2 linked regions of the Homo sapiens genome follow. The protein of the gene in region 2 purifies or fractionates together with the protein of the main gene of each other region. This does not show direct contact. Each region holds a gene or a part of one and is shown on either strand. Other genes may lie near its edges. The genes, in order: DLGAP5 and CAPSL.

Region 1 (12,121 bases), on a different chromosome or scaffold from region 2:
CTAAACGAGGAATATTTAAAGTGGGTCGTTATAGACCTGATATGCCTTGTTTTCTTTTATCAAACCAGAATGCTGTGAAAGCTGAGCCAAAAAAGGTAAATTTAGTGTCTTAATATAAAGGAATAGTTTCTTTTATTTGGTATTTTCTTCAAGACATTAAGTGACTAACCCCTTTCCCTTAGTCTCATTATTAACTGGTTGGTAGAAGGTGGGAATGACATAATAGTAGCTCAGAAGAATGAAAATCAGGTCTCTTAAGATAGCTGTAGGTAAGTTGAGATAGGATAAAACTAGGAAAATTGGTAGAATCAGGCTGAACAATGTTATGCAAAGGATTTGGTGTTTATCCTGTAGGTTTTGCAGAATCAGGAGAAGTTTATAAATAAGGGTAGTGCCGTTGTCAAATTAATAATTCAGGAAAATACCATAGCCCTAAAGATTTTAGTCTGGAAAGGGAAGCATTTATAGATAGGGAGACCAATTGTGAGACTATTGTAATAGAATAGATGGAAAGGGGCAGTGGGTTTTAAAAGGAAAAAATAGGTGTAAGACATCTAAATAAAGGCATTTGACAGGACTGGTGGCCAAGTAGATGGTGAGGGGTAAAGGAAATTGAAAAAGCAGAGAGAAGCTCTGCTGCTAAAAGAGATAAGGAAGATAAGGAACAAGCTTAAGTGGGTGCATGTTAATAACCTTTTTAAAAATCTTAAACTTGTGTGGGCCACCTAGATATTAGTAAAAATTTGGAAAGAAGGATGGAAATTGGTGCTAAGATGTCGATTTAGGATATAATATTGGGAATATGGATGAGTGTTTAAGCTGTAGGACTAAATGAGACCATTCCAATAAGGATATATAAAATTATGAAAAAGTGGGCTCTAGAGAGCACTTTTAGGTAGGCAGAAGCCAGGTACCAGGCTGAGGACTGGTCAGAGAGGCAGGAGAACTAAGAGAGGATAGAAGCTCATATTAATGATGATTCCAATACCTGGAAAATACGGTTTGAAATTTCTTTCTCACTGAGAAATGTGAGTAATTTTTGAAGTTACTAACTTAATTTAAATCAAGCTAGAACCAGAAAAAGGAATTTAAGTATCTTTTTGCTATAAGAGATTAAGGATAAAATTTAACTTTAAAATGGGAACTTTATTTTGTAATAAGATATGGAAGTAAACCTTTACCAGTTCATATTTTAAGTTCATCTTCTTTTGACTGTTCTAAGGCTATTCCATCTTCTGTACGGATTACAAGGTCAAAGGCCAAAGACCAAATGGAGCAGACTAAGGTATAGTTGATAGTAGATAATTGTTACTAAAATGATAAATTGCACTTTTTTAGTAAGTAAATTCATTTTAAATCTAGTATCAGATTCAAACATAATGATTAATTTACTAGAGTTAACAGGTACCAAAGTCACTGTTTTTAGTATGGTGATGTAGAGCAATTTCACTTAAAATATTTGCTCCAACATTCCGTATGAGATCCATGGCAAACTGTCTTTGTGTCACACTCTTGTTTTGTTTAGTGGGCTCCTATTATGCATTCCAAGTTACCTGCATGAAATGCATATGGGGAGGAAAGCACACAGGGTAGGTGTTATAAACTTACGGGTCTTCAAAATACTGTAATAGAGATATCAGGAGGGTTACTAAAACAAAGTGAAGTGGGCAAGAAGGGAAATAATATGCCTCTTTATCAGGTGAGGAAGCTAAGTTCCACGTATGCATATATATTTTGCATTGCTATGATGTTCCTGGTGTTGTAGGCTTTTGGATATAATAAACTAAATTCTCTTTGTGGAACTTACATGTAAGGCATTTAAAAAAATACATAATATGCCAGAAGATGATAAGTATTATGGAAGAGATTTTAAAAAGGGGAGATGGGGTGTACTAGAAATAGGTATGGGGTAGAATTTTGATTGGGCAGTTAAGGAAGGCCTCCCTGAGATGAAAGCCTTTTGAGTGAAGTCATTATGGAAGTGGAGAAGAGAACCATGGGAAAGCGCTTTTTATCCAGGAGAAGTATTTTCTAGGCAAAATTAAAAGGTCTTGAAGTGAAAGTATGTCTAGGAGTGTTTAAGGACCTTCAGAAGGCAAGTTATAGTGAGCTGTTTTTAATAGCTTGGGTTATTAGCATTTTCCAAATTCTGTGATTGTGAAAAAGGATGTAAGCTTTTTTGGAAGCTTAATGGAAAGCTTTTCTTTATCTCATTTTATTTGGGGTAGTTTTTTGTTGTTGTTGTTGGGTCATTTACGATGATCAGATTTCATATGAGGAATCAATTTACAGATTAAAAATATGATGGTCTGATTCATTATGCAATTAAATCACATAGCACCTAATCTCTTAAATAGATTGATAACGAGAGTGATGTTCGAGCAATCCGACCTGGTCCAAGACAAACTTCTGAAAAGAAAGTGTCAGACAAAGAGAAAAAAGGTAGGAATATTAGCAATTACTATAAATCCTCTGAGGCTACCACAGCCATAATTTTTTTTAAGTGTCTTGAAGGTCAACTGGAATTTGTTCGTTTGTTTGTGACAGAGTCTTGCTCTGTTGCCCAGGTTGGAGTGCAGTGGCACAATCATAGCTCACTGGAGCCTCCACCTCCTGGGCTCAAGTGATCCTCCCACCTCAGCCTCCTGAGTAGCTGCAACTACAGACTTGCCACCATGCCCAGCTGATTTTTATATTTTTTGTAGAGACGGGGTCTCACTATGTTGCCTAGGCTGGTTTCGAACTCCTGGGCTGAAGTAATCCTCCTGCCTCCCAAGTAGCTGGGACTACAGGCATTGCACTACCATGCCTGGCTTCACAGCAATAATTTCATAACTACAAGGGACATTTGATGTAGTTATTTTTTTTTCCCACAGTTGTGCAGCCTGTAATGCCCACGTCGTTGAGAATGACTCGATCAGCTACTCAAGCAGCAAAGCAGGTTCCCAGAACAGTCTCATCTACCACAGCAAGAAAGCCAGTCACAAGAGCTGCTAATGGTGAGAACTATTCCTTGATCAGTGACTGAACTAGAATGTTTGGTCCTTGAGGTTTTTGTGTTCCGTTTCAAAAATCAACAAGTACTTCTTTGAGTAGGAGAGAAGGAAACAGGAAATTCTAATACCTGAAAATAGATTCTGTGCCCTGACATCTGGTTAGCACACAATGGGTGCCCAATCATTGAAGACCTTAATTAGTATAAGCAGTGTTTCAAAGTGAAAAATTAATGGTCCGAGTAAATCACAGTTCATTTATTTGGTGCAATACAACGTAGCCATTAAGAATAATATTATTAAAGAACACTTAATGACATGGTTCATGATATATTAAGTGGGCAAAGAAAAGCAGGTCAAACTCTGAACAGTAGGATCGCAGTTCTAAAAAGCATTATGGGAATATGTGGACATAGGACTGGAAAACCATACCCTGAAGTGACAGCTGAGTAATGGAATCCTGGGTGATTTGTCATTATTGTTCTTTGTAGTTTTCTGTTATTTTTCTAATTGTCTGTAATAAATATGTACAGGCTGAGCAACCCTAATCAAAACATCCAAAATTCTGAGCATTGACATGAAGTTCAAAGGTCATCCTCAAAGGAAATGCTCTTGGAGCATTTCAGATTTTAGATATTTGTATCAAGTATGCTGAACCTGTAAGTATAATGTAAATATTCCAAAATCTGGAATCTAAAATATCTCTGGTCCCAAGCATTTTGGATAAGGGATACTCAATCTGTATTTGGTATTCAGATGAAAAGGGTAAAACACTCTGGTTTTGAAAAGAGATGGTTTGTATTTGGCAGGAAATTCCATAACCCTTTTTATAATATGGCTTTTAATAAAAAAATCCTTCAAGACATATATTCCTACTGTTGCTTCTTTTCCTTTCCCAAGTTACCTAGTATTTTCATGTAGCATTTCTATCTAGTAAAATAAATATTTTATTGTTGTTTTAGAAAACGAACCAGAAGGAAAGGTGCCAAGTAAAGGAAGACCTGCCAAAAATGTAGAAACAAAACCCGACAAGGTAGAGAATAAACATCTTTTTAATTCTAGATGCTTTGAAAATCTCATTGCTACTTTCATAAAGTTGAAATTAAACATAAAGAACTGCTTCAAAAGGTTAACCTACATGTGTGTTAAAACTTCCTGAACCATAAGAAAGCATCAAGAGGATTTACTCTTGTTATTTTTCAGGTATCTTATTTTCAGAGCTTTATAGGTAGAGAAAGCATAATTTTGTTAGAAGATGGAGAAAAATAATAAAAACACAGCTGAGAGAAACCTGTATGTGGGAATTAGCCAAGACATAGGGTGAAGTGGGGTGAAATGCATTGACTTTGGATTCATTTAGGCCTGGGTTTGAATACTCTCTCTGCTTCCAATTAGTTGCATAACCCTGGGCAAGTTATGTAGTTTATGAGCTTCTTTTCTTATTCCTAACATGGAATACCTGCATAGAGTAGTTGTAAGAATTAAATAAACTAAAATTTCTGCCTGCATCTAGCATGGTTTCTAATAAGGTCTTCAAAAAAGATGCCCCATTTGAGGACCCAACCCCTTGGCCTATAATCTATGATATAGTTTATTTTCTTTTATTTTATTTTTTGAGACAGAGTCTCACTCTGTCGCCCAGGCTCGAGTGCAATGGCGCGATCTTGGCTCACTGCACCTTCCGCTCCCCGGGTTCAAGTGATTCTCCTGCCTCAGCCTCCCGAGTAGTTGGGATTACAGACGTGCACCACCACGCCCATCTGATTTTTGTATTTTTAGTAGAGACGAGGTTTCACCATGTTGGCCAGGCTGGTCTTGAACTCCCGACCTCAGGTGATCCACCTACTTCGGCCTCCCAAAGTGCTGGGATTACAGGCGTGAGCCACCACGCCTGGCCAGTATAATTTCTTAATTTAAAAAAAGTACCAAAGATTAAGTAACCTGGCTAGATTCTTAGTAAAAAATCAAACACAGATCAAGAAAGGAAACACACAGTGAATCTTCACAGATAAAGCAGCTGGACCTTATAGGTCCCCCCTTAAGATTAACCCTTAAGGATTATCACTAGTTTTTGCTTTGACTGCCATGCTGGCTTCAACAGTGTTACCACTTAAACTCTTGTCCAGGTTGAAATACCTGGGTTTGAGTTCATATCTTATTAAAAATCAGAAACCTGGAAACCTCTAGAAATTATTTAAATACCAAGTAACAAATTGACTTGAAATAGTAAATATGCTTTGTATTTTATATGGTTAATCTTTTGTGTCACATTGAAAGTATTGCTCTTGTGTTAAGGTTATTTATAATCTAAGGTTATTTAACTTAAGAATTTGGTCCTTAATGATAGTCATTCCATAATGTTAGATTTCTGATTTTAAACCATTGTAATTATCAACATAATTTTTTTTTTGAGACAGAGTCTCGCTCTGTCGCCCAGGCTGAAGTGCAGTGACACGATCTCGGCTCACTGCAAGCTCCACCTCCCGGTTTCTCACCATTCTCCTGCCTCAGCCTCCCAAGTAGCTGGGACTATAGGCGCCTGCCACCACGCCCCAATAATTTTTTGTATTTTTAGCAAAGACGGGGTTTTGCTGTGTTAGCCAGGATGGTCTCGATCTCCCGACCTTGTGATCCGCCCGCCTCAGCCTCCCAAAGTGCTGGGATTACAGGCATGAGCCACCGTGCCTGGCCGTAATTATCAACATAATTTAAGTAAAAAGATACGTATTTGTTGAATAAGTTTTTCCATATTAATTTTCCATTATCTTTTAATTTGTTGTAATACCCAAAAGGTATTAGTTAGTCTTTAAATAAGAATTGGTTCGGGGTGGGTGCGGTGGCTCCCGCCTGTAATCCCAGCACTTTGGGAGGCCTAGGCGGGCGGATGACGAGGTCAGGAGATTGAGACCATCCTGGCTAACACAGCGAAACCCCGTCTCCACTAAAAATACAAAAAATTAGCCGGGCGTGGTGGCGGGCGTCTGTAGTCCCAGCTACTTGGGAGGCTGAGGCAGGAGAATGGCGTGAACCCGGGAGGCGGAGCTTGCAGGGAGCCGAGATCGCGCGACTGCACTCCAGCCTGGGCGACGGAGGGCTACTCCGTATCAAAAAAAAAAAAAAGATTCTATTCCCGGGTAATAGCAATGGATTTAGCGTAACTGGTCTTCTGATTCCATGTATACACTTAATTGTATCTGTTTTTGTCTCTCAAATTATGTACATAGAACATATATTTCTGTTGTCATATTTTCAGACCTATAAAAATTGGTTGAATATATCCTCAGAAGAGAGAAATCTTACTCTACTTTGTTAACTCACATCCTAGGGTATTTCTTGTAAAGTCGATAGTGAAGAAAATACTTTGAATTCACAAACTAATGCAACAAGTGGAATGAATCCAGATGGAGTCTTATCAAAAATGGAAAACTTACCTGAGATAAATACTGCAAAAATAAAAGGGAAGAATTCCTTTGCACCTAAGGATTTTATGTTTCAGCCACTGGATGGTCTGAAGACCTATCAAGTAACACCTATGACTCCCAGAAGTGCCAATGCTTTTTTGACACCCAGTTACACCTGGACTCCTTTAAAAACAGAAGTGTAAGAATATGATCTTAATAATAAGTCTCTTGCTAAGATGGGTAATAAATGCCTTTCTTTTTTTTTTTTTTTTTTTTTTTTTTTTCAGACGGAGTTCGCTCTGTCGCCCAGGCTGGAGTGCAGTGGCGTGATCTCCCCTCACTGTAAGCTCCGCCACCCGGGTTCACGCCATTCTTCTGCCTCAGCCTCTCAAGTAGCTGGGACTACAGGCGCCCGTCACCACGCCCGGCTAATTTTTTGTATCTTTAGTAGAGACGGGGTTTCACCATGTTAGCCAGGATGGTCTCGATCTCCTGACCTCGTGATCCGCCCGCCTCGGCCTCCCAAAGTGCTGGGATTACAGGCGTGAGCCACCGCGCCCGGCCAAATGTCTTTCTTATATTTGGTCTATGCTCTTAAAAAGTTATTATTAGTGAACTGTGTTAATTAGGAATCATGCAATTTTTTTCTTTAAAAAAAATTCTTCAGAAGGTACAATAATGTAATTGACAGTTTTTATATTTCCTATGCATTGTTATTTTCACTATACAATTTGGGTTTTTTGTTTTTAATAAATGACTTAATTATAACACATACATTTTTCAAAAGAAGAAAATTGCTATACTGCTTTAGCTCAGATACGACTTTTTCCTCATTTTCTTCTGGCTTAGTATTTAGAAAAACTGGCCCTGAAGACAAAAATGATTAATTTGCAAAACAAGGGAAAAATCAGTTGGAACCTTTAAAAGAAAAGGCAAGATCATTTTGCAAAGACTGGCTGGCAGCAAATATACTAAAAACTGCTCAGCAGCATCTAAGACTGTTAAGTGTTTATGTTCCATTAAGAAATCTTCAAAATCTTTGAATCTGATTACAATTAATTAGTAAAAATGGACATTCACACTATAGGTGTTTACATTTTCTCCCCTCCAGAATACACATTTTAAAAAAATAGAAACATTTCTATTTTAGCCCAGATCTACAAGTGACACAATTTTGAAACCCTTTATATTAGATATATGGAGTTCATGTTTCATGAAGTATATTTTTGCTATTGTTTTTAGTGATGAGTCTCAAGCAACAAAAGAAATTTTGGCACAAAAATGTAAAACTTACTCTACCAAGACAATACAGCAAGATTCAAATAAATTGCCATGTCCTTTGGGTCCTCTAACTGTTTGGCATGAAGGTATAGTATTTAATTAATTTATTCATTTTTTAGAATAATGTTAATACAAAAAATATTTTGCTTTCAGGTATAGTAATTACATTTTTACTTTTCTGGATTATTACTTGTCAGATTTGTTTGGAGCTCTTTTTCACCATATCATTTGGGGATGTGAACTCAGGGTCAGAAAAGACGGGAAAGCATGGGTAAAGATATCTGAAGAGAATATTGGAATGAAGAATACAGACAGAAGAGGGGAAATAAATGTAAATTTAAAGAAAAAATATTGAGAGCTACTTTAGAGGAAATGTGAAGTGATTGAGGCAGAAATAAAATTTTAAAATTAAACATTGAAAAGGATTTTTAAAATGTCTTTTTAGGGGCTGTCATTTTAGGAATTGTTGCTTTGAAATTTATATGTAAGATTTTCTTTAATTTATAGAACATGTTTTAAATAAAAATGAAGCTACTACTAAAAATTTAAATGGCCTTCCAATAAAAGAAGTCCCATCACTTGAAAGAAATGAAGGTCGAATTGCTCAGCCCCACCATGGTGTGCCATATTTCAGGTATGTCTGTGTGTTTCTAGTGTAAGAATTTTGTATTAATATCTAGACATTTAAAACCAAAACTAAAAATTTTTAACCTTAATATAGTGGGGGAAAACTGGTGTTAGGTGATTTTCACGTTTAAATTTTAATTATTTTTTTGATAACTAGTACATTCATGTGGTTCCTAATTCAAAGGGTAGGAAAAGGTACAAGTGAGAAGACTTCTTCTCAGCACTGTGACCCAACCACATAGTTTGAACCTTTCATGAAGGCAAGTGTTACTCATTTCTTGTGAATACTTCCATGGATAGTTCATGCATATGTAGACAAATATAACATGTACATTTTTTTCTTTTTTAAAAAATATGGACAATAGGCTGGGCGCGGTGGCTCACGCCTGTAATCCCAGCACTTTGGGAGGCCGAGGTGGGTGGATCACAAGGTCAAGAAATCGAGACCATCCTGTCTAACATGGTGAAACCCCATCTCTACTAAAACTGTAAAAATTATCCGGGCGTGGTGGTGCACGCCTGTAGTCCCAGCTACTCATGAGGCTAAGGCAGGAGAATTGCTTGAACCTGGGAGGCGGAGGTTGCAGTTAGCCAAGATTGCACCACTGCACTCCAGCCTGGCAACAGAGTGAGACTCCATCTCAAAATATATATATATCTATATACATATATATATCGGGGAATCTGCCCTGATATTCACGTAGGTTCTTTTCTGTTTTCCTTAAGCATTGGCCAGCTTGAGAAGTAAAGGGACAGAGTACAAAAAGAAATTTTAAAGCTGGGCATCCGGGGGAGACATCACATGTCGGTAGGTTCCGTGATGCCCCACAAGCTGCAAAAACCAGCAAGTTTTTATTAGGGATTTTCAAAAGGGGAGGGAGTGTGCGAATAGGTGTGGGTCACAGACATCAAGTACTTTACAAGGTAATAGAATATCACAAGGCAAGTGGAGGCAGGGTGAGATCACGGGACCAGGGCGAAATTAAAATTGCTAAATGAAGTTTCGGGCACCATTGTCATTGATAACATCTTATCAGGAGACAGGGTTTTGAGATCAACCAGTCTGACCAAAATTTATTAGGCGGGAATTTCCTCTTCCTAATAAGCCTGGGAGCGCTATGGGAGACTGGGGTCTATTTCACCCCTGCAGTTTCGACAGTAAGAGACGGCCACGCCCAGGGGGCCAGTTAAGAGACCCACCCCCAGGTGCGCATTCTCTTTCTCAGGGATGTTCCTTGCTGAGAAAAAGAATTCAGTGATATTTCTCCCATTTGCTTTTGAAAGAAGAGAAATATGGCTCTGTTCCGCCCGGCTCACCGGCGGCCAGAGTTTAAGGTTATCTCTCTTATTCCCTGAACAATCGCTGTTATCCTGTTTTTTCAAGGTGCCCACATTTCATATTGCTCAAACACACATGCTGTACAATTTGTGCAGTTAATACAGTTATTACAGGGTCCTGAGGTGACATACATCCTCCTCAGCTGACAGGATTAAGAGATTAAAGTAAGTAAAGACAGGCATAGGAAATCACAAGGGTATTGACTGGGGAAGTGATAAGTGTCCATGAAATCTTTACAATTTATATTTAGAGATTGCAGTAAAGACAGGCATAAGATATTACAAAAGTATTAATTTGGGGAACTAATAAATGTCCATGAAATCTTCATAATCCACGTTCTTCTGCCATGGCTTCAGCCAGTCCCTCCGTTTGGGGTCCCTGACTTCCTGCAACATGTATATATATATATAGAGAGAGAGAGAGAGACAACATATATCTATAGAGAGAGACAATATCATACAATACACACTATTCTGTTTGCAAATCAAATAGATGAGAAGTAAGTATCTCATTATAGTTTTACTATTCATTTGTTCTATTATAAATATACTTTTTGAGAGTGACTTCATTTCTTTCTTTTCTTTTGTTTTGAAATGGTTGCACTCTGTTGCCCAGGCTGGAGTACAGTGATGTGATCTCAGCTCACCGCAGCCTCTCTGTCCTGAGCTCAAGCCATCCTCCTGCCAGTGGGTGGCTAATTTTGGTGTGTGTGTGTTTTTTTTTTTGTTTTTTTTTTTTTTTGTAGAGACGGGGGTCTTATGATATTGCCCAAGCTGGTCTCGAACTCACAGGCTCAAGCGATCCTTTTGCCTCAGCCTCCCATACTGTTAGGATTACAGGCATGAGCCACTATGTCCAGCTTAATTTCTTTTTTAGAGCACTGGGTTTTAGAATTATAAGGGATTTTAGAGGTAGCTAATCCATTGTGTCATTCCACTGAGTTATTGAAATATTAAGCAATCTACCTAACTAGATAATGTCAGAACTAAACCATTTCTGCTATCTCTTCTTTTTTTTTTTTTTTTTTTTTTTGAGACGGAGTCTCGCTCTGTTGCCCAGGCCGGAGTGCAATGGCGCGATCTTGGCTCTTTGCAACCTCTGCCTCCCAGGTTCAAGCAATTCTCAGGCCTCAGCCTCCTGAGTAGCCAGGATTACAGGCGTGTGCCACCACACCCAGCTAATGTTTATATTTTTAGTAGAGACGGGGTTTCACCATGTTGGTCAAGCTGGTCTCGAACTCCTGACCTTGTGATCCGCTTGCCTCAGCCTCCCAAAGTGCTGGTATTACAGGCGAGAGCCACCGTGCCCGACCCTCTGCCTCCTTATTAATCGTCATGTTGTGTCATTGAATATGAACAACTCAAATTTTTTGTTTTTGTTTCTGTTTTTTGAGACAGGGTCTCACTCTGTCACCCAGGCTGGAGTGCAGTGTCTCGCTCTTGGCTCACTGCAGCCTTGACTTCCCGACCTCCCACCTCAGCCTCCTGAGGAGCTGGGACTATGTCTGTTTCTAGCGTAAGAATTTTGTATTTAAAAAAAATAAAAATAAAGAATTTTGTACTAATATCTAGACATTTAAAACCAAAACTAAAATATTTATAACCTTAATACAGTGGAGGGAAACTGATGTTAGGTGATTTTCATTTATCTTTTAAATACTTTTTTTTTTTTTTGTATTTTTTTTTTTAAGTAGAGATTGGTTTTCGCCATGTTTCCCAGGCTGGTCTGGAACTCCTAGGCTCAAGTGATCTGCCTGCCTCAGCCTCACAAAGTGCTGGCTGGAATTACAGGCATGAGCCACTGAGTCTGGCCCTAAATTTTTTTTTTTTTTTTTAAAGAAACAAAACCTGCCGGGTTCGGTGGCTCCCACCTGTAATCCCAGCACTTTGGGAGGCTGAGGCTTGCAGATCACCTGAGGTCAGGAGTTCAGGACTAGTAGCCTGGCCAACTTGGTGAAACCCCATCTCTACTAAAAATACAAAAATTATCTGGGCGTGGTGGTAGGTGCCTGAAACTCTGTACCTACTAAAAAATAACTCCCCATTCCTCAGCCATTCCCTCCTAGCCCCTGGTAAATACCATTCTACTTTCTGTCTCTGATTTTGACTCTGCTAAGTATCTTATTTAAGTAGAATTATGTAGTATTTGTCTTGTTTTACTGGCTTATTTCACTTAGCATAATGTCCTCAAGGTTCATTCATTGTAGCATGTGTCAGACTTTCCTTTTTAAGGCCGAATAATATTTCATTGTATGTATATACCACATTTTGCTTATCCCTTTGTCTGTCAGTGGACACTTGGGTTGCTTCCATGTTTTAACTGTTGTGAACAGCTATGAACATGGGTGTACAAATACCTCTTTGAGACCCTGCTCTAAATTATCTTGGGTGTATACCCAGAAGTAGAATTGCTGGGTTGTGTGGTAAGTCTATTTTTAATTTTTTGAGGAGCTGCCATACTGTTTTCTACAGTGGCTTTGC
Region 2 (12,121 bases):
TTAGCATTAGGTATATCTTCTAATGCTATCACTTCCCCCTCCCTTCACCCCACAACAGGCACCGGTGTGTGATGTTCCCCTTCCTGTGTCCATGTGTTCTCATTGTTCAATTCCCACCTATGAGTGCGAACATGCGGTGTTTGGTTTTTTGTCCTTGCAATAGTTTGCTGAGAATGATGGTTTCCAGCTTCATCCATGTCCCTACAAAGGACATGAACTCATCATTTTTTATGGCTGCATAGTATTCCATGGTGTATATGTGCCACATTTTCTTAATCCAGTCTATCATTGTTGGACATTTGGGTTGGTTCCAAGTCTTTGCTATTGTGAATAGTGCCACAATAAACATACGTGTGTATGTGTCTTTAGAGCAGCATGATTTATAATCCTTTGGGTATATAACCAGTAATGGGATGGCTGGGTCAAGTGATATTTCTAGTTCTAGATCCCTGAGGAATTGCCACACTGACTTCCACAATGGTTGAACTAGTTTACAGTCCCACCAACAGTGTAAAAGTGTTCCTATTTCTCCACATTCTCTCCAGCACCTGTTGTTTCCTGACTTTTTAATGATCGTCATTCTAACTGGTGTGAGATGGTATGTCATTGTGGTTTTGATTTGCATTTCTCTGATGGCCAGTGATGATGAGCATTTTTTCATATGTCTTTTGGCTGCATAAATGTCTTCTTTTGAGAAGTGCCTGTTCATATCCTTTGCCCACTTTTTGATGGGGTTGTGTGTTTTTTTCTTGTAAATTTGTTTGAGTTCATTGTAGATTCTGGATATTAGCCCTTTGTCAGATGAGTAGGTTGCAAAAATTTTCTCCCCTTCTGTAGGTTGCCTCTTCACTCTGATGGTAGTTACTTTGGCTGTGCAGAAGCTCTTTAGTTTAATTAGATGCCATTTGTCCATTTTGGCTTTTGTCGCCATTGCTTTTGGTGTTTTAGACATGAAGTCCTTGCCCATGCCTATGTCCTGAATGGTATTGCCTAGGTTTTCTTCTACGGTTTTTATGGTTTTAGGTCTAACATGTAAGTCTTTAATCCATCTTGAATTAATTTTTGTGTAAGGTGTAAGGAAGGGATCCAGTTTCAGCTTTCTACATATGGCTAAGCCAGTTTTCCCAGCACCATTTATTAAATAGGCAATCCTTTCCCCATTACTTGTTTTTGTCAGGTTTGTCAAAGATCAGATAGTTGTAGATATGTGGCATTATTTCTGAGGGCTCTGTTCTGTTCCATTGGTCTATATCTCTGTTTTGGTACCAGTACCATGCTGTTTTGGTTACTGTAGCCTTGTAGTATAGTTTGAAGTCAGGTAGCGTTATGCCTCCAGCTTTTTCTTTTGTCTTAGGATTGTCTTGGCAATGTGGGCTCTTTTTTTGGTTCCATATGAACTTTAAAGTAGTTTTTTCCAATTCTGTGAAGAAAGTCGTTGGTAGCTTGATGGGGATGGCATTGAATCTATAAATTACCTTGGGCAGTATGGCCATTTTCAAGATATTGATTCTTCCTACCCATGAGCATGGAATGTTCTTCCATTTGTTTGTATCCTCTTTTATTTCCTTGAGCAGTGGTTTGTAGTTCTCCTTGAAGAGGTCCTTCACATCCCTTGTAAGTTGGATTCCTAGGTATTTTATTCTCTTTGAAGCAATTGTGAATGGGAGTTCACTCATGATTTGCCTCTCTGTTTGTCTGTTATTTGTGTTTAAGAATGCTTGCGATTTTTGCACATTGATTTTGTATCCTGAGACTTTGCTGAAGTTGCTTATCAGCTTAAGAAGATTTTGGGCTGAGACGATGGGGTTTTCTAGATATACAATCATGTCATCTGCAAACAGGGACAATTTGACTTCCTCTTTTCCTAATTGAATACCATTTGTTTCCTGCTCCTGTCTGATTGCTCTGGCCACAACTTCCAACACTATGTTGAATAGGAGTGGTGAGAGAGGGCATCCCTGTCTTGTGCCAGTTTTCAAATGGAATGCTTCCAGTTTTTTGCCGATTCAGTGTGATACTGGCTGTGGGTTTGTCATAGATAGCTCTTATTATTTTGAGATAACGTCCCATCAATACCTAATTTGTTGAGAGTTTTTAGCATGAAGGGTTGTTGAATTTTGTCAAAGGCCTTTTCTGCATCTATTGAGATAATCATGTGGTTTTTGTCGTTGGTTCTGTTTATATGCTGGATTACATTTATTGATTTGCGTATGTTGAACCAGCCTTGCATCCCAGGGATGAAGCCCACTTGATCATGGTGGATAAGCTTCTTGATGTACTGCTGGATTTGGTTTGCCAGTATTTTATTGAGGATTTTTGCATTGATGTTCACCAGGGATATTGGTCTAAAATTCTCTTTTTTGGTTGTGTCTCTGTCCGGCTGTGGTATCAGGATGATGCTGGCCTCCTAAAATAAATTAGGGAGGATTGCCTCTTTTTCTATTGACTGGAATAGTTTCAGAAGGAATGGTACCAGTTCCTCCTTGTACCTCTGGTAGAATTTGGCTGTGAATCCTTCTGGTCCTGGACTGTTTTTGGTTGGTAAGCTATTAATTATTGCCTCAATTTCAGGGTCTGTTATTGGTCTATTCAGAGATTCAACTTCTTCCTAGTTTAGTCTTGGGAGGGTGTGTGTGTTGAGGAATTTATCCATTTCTTCTAGATTTTCTAGTTTATTTGCATAGAAGTGTTTATAGTATTCTCTGATGGTAGTTTGTATTTCTGTGGGATCGGTGGTGATATCCCCTTTATCATTTTTTATTGTGTCTATTTGATTCTTCTCTCTTTTCTTCTTTATTAGTCTTGCTAGAGTTCTATCAATTTTGTTGATCTTTTCAAATAACCAGCTCCTGGATTTAATGATTTTTTGAAGAGTTTTTTGTGTCTCTATTTCCTTGAGTTCTGCTCTGATCTTAGTTATTTCTTGCCTTCTGCTAGCTTTTGAATATGTTTGCTCTTGCTTCTCTAGTTCTTTTAATTGTGACATTAGGGTGTCAATTTTAGATCTTTCCTGCTTTCTCTTGTGGACATTTAGTGCTATAAATTTCCCTCTACACACTGCTTTGAATGTGTCCCAGAGATTCTGGTATGTTGTGTCTTTGTTCTCGTTGGTTTCAAAGAACATCTTTATTTCTGCCTTCATTTCGTTATGTACCCAGTAGTCATTCAGGAGCAGGTTGTTCAGTTTCCATGTAGTTGAGAGGTTTTGAGTGAGTTTCTTAATCCTGAGTTCTAGTTTGATTGCACTGTGGTCTGAGAGACAGTTTGTTATAATTTCTGTTCTTTTACATTTGCTGAGGAGTGTTTTACTTCCAATTATGTGGTCAATTTTGGAATAGGTGTGGTGTGGTGCTGAAAAGAATGTATATTCTGTTGATTTGGGGTGGAGAGTTCTGTAGATGTCTATTAGGTCCGCTTGGTGCAGAACTTAGTTCAATTCCTGGATATCTTTGTTAACTTTCTGTCTCGTTGATCTGTCTAATGTTGACAGTGGGGTGGTAAAGTCTCCCATTATTATTGTGTGGGAGTCTAAGTCTCTTTGTAGGTTTCTAAGGACTTGCTTTATGAATCTGCGTGCTCTTGTATTGGGTGCATATATATTTAGGATAGTTAGCTCTTCTTGTTGAATTGATCCCTTTACCATTATGTAATGGCCTTCTTTGTCTCTTTTTATCTTTGTTGTTTTAAAGTCTGTTTTATCAGAGACTAGGATTGCAACCCCTGCCTTTTTTTGTTTTCCATTTGCTTGGTAGATCTTCCTCCATCCCTTTATTGTGAGCCTGTGTGTGTCTCTGCATTTGAGATGGGTTTCCTGAATACAGCACACTGATGGGTCTTGACTGTTTATCCAATTTCCCAGTCTGTGTCTTTTAACTGGAGCATTTAGCCCATTTACATTTCAGGTTAATATTGTTATCTTTGAATTTGATCCTGTCATTATGATGTTAGCTGGTTATTTTGCTCATTAGTTTATGCCGTTTCTTCATAGCATCGATGGTCTTTACAATTAGGCATGTTTTTGCAGTGGCTGGTACCGGTTGTTCCTTTCCACATTTAGTGCTTCCTTCAGGAGCTCTTTTAGGGCAGGCCTGGTGGTGACAAAATCTCTCAGCATTTGCTTGTCTGTAAAGGATTTTTATTTCTCCTTCACTTATGAAGCTTAGTTTGGCTGGATACGAAATTCTGTGTTGAAAATTCTTTTCTTTTAGAATGTTGAATATTGGCCCCCACTCTCTTCTGGCTTGTAGAGTTTCTGCTGAGAGATCCGCTGTTAGTCTGATGGGCTTCCCTTTGTGGGTAACCTGACCTTTCTCTGTGGCTGCCCTTAACATTTTTTCCTTATTTCCACTTTGGTGAATCTGACAATTATGTGTCTTGGAGTTGCTCTTCTCGAGGACTATCTTTGTGGCATTCTCTGTATTTCCTGAATTTGAATGTTGGCCTGCCTTGCTAGATTGGGGAAGTTCTCCTGGAAAATATCCTGCTGAGTGTTTTCCAACTTGGTTCCTTTCTCCCCATCACTTTCAGGTACACCAATCAGACATAGATTTGGTCTTTTCACATAGTCCCATATTTCTTGGAGGCGTTGTTCATTTCTTTTTGTTCTTTTATCTCTAAACTTCTCTTCTCACTTCATTTCATTCATTTGATCTTCCATCACTGATACCCTTTCTTCCAGTTGATCGAATTGGCTACTGAGGCTTGTGCATTCATCACGTAGTTCTCTTGTCATGGTTTTCAGCTCCGTCAGGTCCTTTAAGGACTTCTCTGCAGTGGTTTTCTAGTTAGACGTTCATCTAATTTTTTTTTCAAGGTTTTTAACTTCTTTGCCATGGGTGCAAACTTCCTCCTTTAGCTCAAGTAGTTTGATCATCTGCAGTCTTCTTCTGTCAACTTGTTAAAGTCATCTCCATCCAGCTTTGTTCCATTGCTGGTGAGGAGCTGTGCTCCTTTGGAGGAGGAGAGGCACTCTGCTTTTTAGAGTTTCCAGTTTTTCTGCTCTGTTTTTTCCCCATCTTTGTGGTTTTATCTACCTTTGGTCTTTGATGATGGTGACATACAGATGAGGTTTTGGTGTGGATGTCCTATCTGTTTGTTAGTTTTCCTTCTAACAGTCAGGAACCTCAGCTGCAGGTCTGTTGGAGTTTGCTGGAGGTCCACTCCAGACCCTGTTTGCCTGGGTATCAGCAGTGGAGGCTGCAGAACAGCAGATATTGGTGAACAGCAAATGTTGCTGCCTGATTGTTCCTCTGGAAGTTTTGTCTCAGAGGAGTACCTGGCCGTGTGAGGTGTCAGTCTGCCCCTACTGGGGGGTGCCTCCCAGTTAGGCTACTCGGGGGTCAGGGACCCACTTGAGGAGGCAGTCTGTCCATTATCAGATCTCAAGCTGCATGCTGGGAGAACCATTACTCTCTTCAAAGTTGTCAGACAGGGACATTTAAATCTGCAGAGGTTTCTGCTGCCTTTTGTTTGGCTATGCCCTGCCCCCAGAGGTGGAGTCTACAGAGGCAGGCAGGCCTCCTTGAGCTGCAGTGAGCTCCACCCAGTTTGAGCTTCCTGGCTGCTTTGTTTACCGTCTCAAGCCTCAGCAATGGTGGGCATCCCTCCCCCAGCCTCGCTGCTGCTTTGCAGTTTGGTCTCAGACTGCTGTGCTGGCAATGAGTGAGGCCCGGTGGGTGTCGGATCCTCCGAGCCAGGTGCAGGATATAATCTCCTGGTGCGCCGTTTGCTAAGACTGTTGGAAAAGCATAGTATTAGGGTGGGACTGACCCGATTTTCCAGGTGCCGTCTGTCACCCCTTTCTTTGACTAGGAAAGGGAATTCCCTGACCCCTTGCGCTTCCTGGGTGAGGCGATGCCTTGCCCTGCTTCAGCTCATGCTTGGTGTGCTGCACCCACTGTCCGACACTCCCCAGTAAGATGAACCTGGTACCTTAGTTGGAAATGCAGAAATCACCTGTCTTCTGCATCGCTCACGCTGGGAGCTGTAGACTGGAGCTGTTCCTATTTGGCCATCTTGCTCCACCCCCTTATTTTTTAAATAGACTACTTTAAAAACCAATGCCAGCACATGATTATTAACTAAGGCCCATAATTTATTCATACTTCCGTAGTTTTTACCTAGTGTCCTTTTCTGTTTCAAGATCTCATCCAGAACTCTGCTTTACATTTACTTGTAATGTTTCCTTAGGATCCTGTTGGTTATGACAGTTTCTCAGACTTTCCTGGTTTTTGATGAATGTGAGAGGTCAAGTATTTTGTAGGATGCCCACCTATTGGAATTTCTCTGATTTTTTTCTTCATGACTAAACTGGGCTTATTATTTTTAGGGACCACAGACATAAAGCACCATTTTTATCACATTATACCAAGGATATGTATGATTAACATGATTTATTACTGTTGATGTTGACACTGATCACCTGATTGAGGTAGTATTTGTCAGACTTCTCCATTGTAAAGTTGCTTCCCTTTTCCCTTTTCCATATCGTACTTTTTGGAAGGAAACCTCTTTGTAGAGCCCACACTTAGAGAGTGGGGAGTATATGTTCCCTCCTTGAGAGGAGAATATATCCATAACTTATTTGGAATTTTTCTGCAAGAGAAATTTGTCATTTTCTTCATCTTTATTTACTCTATCATTTATTTAACCAGTATGGATGTAGGGATTTCTTTTTTATATTTTGGGTTATAATCCAGCATAGTTTTATTGGTTTAATTGTTCCAGCCTTGATCTTGAGAGCTATTTAAGTTGGCTCCTATATCCCTAACATAGCCACATCACTGTGATTTTCTGACTTCCTAAATCATTTTTTTAAAATTGATATGCATTAAGGTTTACACCTTGCTCTGTAAAGTGCTATGGGTTTTAGCAAATGCATAATGTCATGTATCCACCATCATAGTATTATAAAGGATAGTTTCTTTGACCTAAAAATCCCATGTTTCACCAATTCAACTCTTTCCTTTACCTTTCATCTTTTTACTGTCTCCACAGTTTTGTCTTTTGCAGAATGTCATGTAATTAGAATTATACTTTGTGTGTGTGTTTGTGTGTGTGTGGTGGGAAGAGGCTCTCCAGTTTTGGAAAGGAGGGTGCAGAGAAGAATTTAAGACTTTTGTATTTTAATTTGACGAAACCTTGAGTGTGGATTTTTTTTTAATCTTTACACTTACACCTGTTATTTGTACATTTCTTCTGAATTTTTGTGTGTATTTTCTTCAGAGTGTTTAGAATTATGGATGACGATAATAATCGAACCCTTGATTTTAAAGAATTTATGAAAGGGTTAAATGATTATGCTGTGGTCATGGAAAAAGAAGAGGTGGAAGAACTTTTCCGGAGGTTTGATAAAGATGGAAATGGAACAATAGACTTCAATGAATTTCTTCTCACATTAAGAGTAAGTGGCCCCATTAATCAGTGTATCTGCTGAGTTTGGCTTTCACGTGGTTTGGGTTGGCTACCTTGAGGTTTTGTTTTTACAAGTTGTTAGTACACTGTGGGGAGGGGGATAAGCAGAAAACTGTGAACAGACTTAGGAATTTTTGGAGCAATTGTAGTGTCTATTACATAATAGCACACAAATATTATTTCACATCGTTGAGGGGAATGAGATATTTTATCACATAGGATACCAAAAAAGCTCATTTGCTTATGTATGTCTCTGTATGTATTCTTCTATTTTTGTAGCCTCCAATGTCCAGAGCCAGAAAAGAGGTAATCATGCAAGCTTTTAGAAAGTTAGACAAGACTGGAGATGGTGTTATAACAATCGAAGACCTTCGTGAAGTATATAATGCAAAACACCACCCAAAGTACCAGAATGGGGAATGGAGTGAGGAACAAGTATTTAGGAAATTTCTGGATAACTTTGATTCACCCTATGACAAAGATGGATTGGTAAGTAAAAGAGCCTAATCTAGGGGAAATTTCTTCAATTCGAAATTGTAAATGGGAAATAGGTCCAAACTCTTAAAAATGTTAACACATTGATACCATATTTGTTGTAAATAGAAGTAAACTATTTCCCTAGGAACAATCTAGAAACTTCTCCATTGCCAGGGGAAACCTTCATGTTACTTTAGTTGAAACCTAATGTATGTTTGTGCACGCACACACTCATAGACATATATTGAAATATATTGGTAGGGGATCCACATAAGTGATGACCTGTCATCTGGGGAATGTGATGTTCTGATTAAACATGCCATTTTATGGTTACTATATTTACCATACTCAGCTAGTTGCACTCCAGTGAACTGATTATAATAAAATATATTTAACTTTGAAATGAGATCATAATTTAATTTTGGAGAACAGATTTACAAGGCCTTTCAGGATGTTTTAGTGCCTTCACACTCATCCTCATTCATCTTCACACTTTGCTATGTGGAAATGCCATTTAAAGGTAGTTTTTGGTAAAGGGAATGTCAAATAACAGAATTTACTCTGATTTATTCTTTAGTGTGCTTTGAGATTAACTTACATTTCTAAACTGCACTGAATTTGAAAACAAAATCAACCGCCCATCTCCATTAACTTTTATCTTCAAGTTACAAATGCATAGCTTGGTAGGGTAAGGAATTATATAGCTCCATGACTGTGTCTAGGCTGAGATGAAAATGTCATCTGTCCTTTATCAACAGCCCTAAATTGACTTTTTAGAAAAAAAAAAAAAACCCTGAGCCAGTTCTGTTCTTAGATGATCTAAGGGTTTTGGTGATAAGGAAAGGGGATTGTCCCTTGAGTAACAGTCAGCAGCAGCACAGCCCCAGGGTTCATTGTCTCTTAAGCCCTTTACAGCACAGGAAAAGATAAGTGGCCCAGTGGACAAGAAGAGAGTGGTTAAGGGAAGAAGAAATAAACCTTCCTCTTCTGAAGGGAATGTGCTCCAACTTTTTAAATGAAACTTCATGATGAGTCTCATTAGCAAGGGGTGGGGGATAGGAAGGTGACCTTTCTGTTCTTCCTGCTGACATTTCCCTTTCAGGGATGGAGACATACCCTCTATTTCAGGCTGAGGATTGTGGAGGCAGGTTTACAAAAGGGCCAAAATTCAATAGGGCAGCCAAAATCTTAGGGACAGAAATAAAAACTACATGTTTTCTTCCAGTATTGCTGGCCTTGATCACTGAGATGTCAGTGGAAAAATAGCCAACTGCCATTTCCCCAAATTAGCCCACCCCTTTGTGGATCCTAGAGTGTGTCTGCTTCCTCTCTGCAGGTGGTTCCTCCTCATTGCCAGGGGAAACCTCAGCTACCCTTTTCTCTAACAAAAGTCAAAATAGCCAGTTGTGATTCGGCTGATTCAAGTCTGCACATCACCCCTTTTGATATTTATCTTAAGAAGCCACATTAAGCTCTCAAAAGCTCATAAAGGTTATTGAGGTTTTTAGCAGTTATAGCACTTGATGTCATCTGCATGTTACAGACCCTGTATTGATACCCAACTCTGGCTGTTCATAATCATCATCAGGGAGGATTTATTAGTAATGTAGATTCCTAGCTGCACTGCAGAACCACAGAATCTGATTTTTTGGAGGATGGAGTCCAAGGCTTTACATTTTAATGTGTACCAGATGACTCTTACACTCACGTGTATTTGTGATCCTTAGCTCTAAAAGATTCAGAAATAACTGTTTTAAAATTACTAAATATAATATACACATGACCCCATTTAGCATAATAATGAATCTGGGCAACACTTTTTGAGCACATATCAACTGGGCATTTGCTAAGGGCTTACCAGGGATATCTCATTTAATAGACATAATAAAAGTGTTTCTGAAAAGTGATGTGTAATTCAAACTTTCGCACACTGAATTGTATTTTAAATGCACAAGAAATTGTTGTTGTAGAGGAACTCCATGGTAAATTCTTTTATGAGAAGAATAATTAGCTTCTAAAATTTACCTCTTGCAAATTGCACTATTTTGCATATTAAGATTGCTTGTGGTGAAGCATAGCTGTACTTGAAGCCAGTGTGCTCATTTATGGTTAAAAACATCCCATATAAGACAAAATTTAAAATAATGCAAAAAATTTAGCATAGCTCCTAGCTAAAGGTAATGTTCAAACTTGATAATCTAGGTTAAACTCTCAAATACCCATAAAGGTTGCTGGAGTTTCAGCAGTCACGGAATTTGATGTCATAAATCTTGCACTAATACCTCACTGGACTCCCATAGCAGCCGGAAGCCATTTGGATGGAGGTGTGAAGCAATCAGATAACCTGTGACACAGACTTTCCTTACCCCTTTTCTATCACTAAACCCCACCACAATTTGGTGAGACATTTACTTCTTATTCTTTAATATCTAAGTTTTGAATTCTTCATGTGTATATATGACTTTATCATCACTATATTTTTAAAAAGCCTCTTAGGACTTTAGACCTTCAGGGAATATCAGTCTATTGCCTCATCCATCTCATAAAAAATTTTTAAATAATTAAAAATATGTTAGGTATATTACTGAGTGTATGTATTAATAGTAACCTAGATTTGTTTTAGGATTTTTCTGATGAATTTGGAGCTGAGAAAAAGGGCTTGTATTGTGACTTCCATTACCCCCATCTGGGACCTTTCCTTGTATATATGATATATATCTTGTCACATAAAGGTAGCCTAGTCAAGAGGCCTGCTAAAAGTAGGAGTGCCCAGTCTCTCATTTTTTTCTAATGTCAAATAAAATGAATAAGGATAGTGATTATTGCTAACCAACAATTTACTATGATGAGGGCAAATTTACAGGAGATCAGAGAATTTGCGATTCAGGCCATTCCCAATATAAGTTGAGTCTCAGAAAACAAGCAAACACCTAGCTAAGAGTAACTGATGGCTTTTTCTGAAATGATCAAATACATTAGCTCTGACCTCTGGCTTGACGTCATCTGACTTCCAAGTGAGGTTTAATGCTTCCTTTATCTTTTGCCCATCTTGGATTCCTTCTCCATTCTCCAACAGAGCCAACTCAACTCAGGTCACCCCATCCCACTGGGGGAGTTTGGGATGGAAGGATGGGTGACGATACCAGTCTCAATCATGTATTGGTGTTTCAGTTAGGGTTTGCTTTCAATTGCAAGAAATAGGAAATCTTATTATACACTGGAATACACAAATTAGGTTTTATTTTTTATTCTACTTGATGTTCTCACTTGAGTGGCTTAAAGAGAGCAGAGCTGAAGTCTTTGTGATTTTCCTGGCCTTTCCTTCATGATCTCAAGATGGTTGCCTAACTTCAGCCAGCACATCTGAGTTTCAGGCAGCAGGACAAAGGAGGGAGAAGGAGGGAACGAGAAAGGGCTGGAGCCTGCATCAGGAAAGCAAAGGCTTCCCTAGAAATTCATGTCAAATTTCCTTTGTATCTTATTGGTGAGAACTCTATTACTTGGCCATCCCAAGCTGAAGCTGCAGAGGAGTCTGGGAAAGTGAGTTTTGAGTTTTTCAACTTCTGTGGGAGAGAAAAGCTAGGGATAGGATTATTACAGTGGATGTGGAGGGAGTCTCATTCAATGGCTGTCATCCCTGGCCAACAAACAGACAATAGAAACAATAACAAACTAAAAATATCGGGAGTTTGATAATTTTTAATTAAAAAATAATTAGCTGTAAAAAATGTTCCTCAAACTGTCATGGTAAAGTGCACCGTCAAAATGGCTCAGGGTCTCGTGGGTAACTCTTTTAGTTTACTTGCTATTTGCTGTAAAATGATCCACTTACTTTGTTGGAGTATTTCACCAGCCTGCAACTTTTTGAGGACTGAGACTTTATCTTAATTATCTTTGATATTCCCAGTTAAATTACTGTAGTGTGCACAACAATTAACTGGGATGTTTAGATTTTTAAGAAGTAAATTCCACAACCACCTGCTTCAGAGATTCTGATTTAGCAGGTGTGGGGTACAGCCTGTGGGCCTAGGCTTATGACAGACACCCCAGGTTGTCCTGATGCAGGTGGTGTGGACCCACACTGATAAACATTTCCCTGGAACCTCACACAACATGAGAAAGATAGAAAGAGGGCAATAATGATGTGTGAAACTTAATGTAATCCCTTAATGAGGGAATTGAAAAGCAGAGGCTGAGGAATCCAAAGGAGGAGAGGAATAAAGAAGTTCAA

What was found.
Region 1: the proteins of CAPSL (region 2) and DLGAP5 purify together in Homo sapiens (co-immunoprecipitation; 2 studies listed by BioGRID and IntAct, with this or other methods). This does not show direct contact.

The regions. Positions count from the first base shown.
Region 1 is NC_000014.9:55,171,534-55,183,654, reverse strand, and holds part of DLGAP5 (disks large-associated protein 5), read left to right. Parts: coding exon 1-95; intron 96-1,222; coding exon 1,223-1,285; intron 1,286-2,357; coding exon 2,358-2,442; intron 2,443-2,876; coding exon 2,877-2,999; intron 3,000-3,955; coding exon 3,956-4,026; intron 4,027-6,318; coding exon 6,319-6,593; intron 6,594-7,636; coding exon 7,637-7,761; intron 7,762-8,182; coding exon 8,183-8,309; intron 8,310-12,121. UniProt on the Homo sapiens protein: Potential cell cycle regulator that may play a role in carcinogenesis of cancer cells. Mitotic phosphoprotein regulated by the ubiquitin-proteasome pathway.
Region 2 is NC_000005.10:35,905,647-35,917,767, reverse strand, and holds part of CAPSL (calcyphosin-like protein), read left to right. Parts: intron 1-7,224; coding exon 7,225-7,402; intron 7,403-7,692; coding exon 7,693-7,902; intron 7,903-12,121.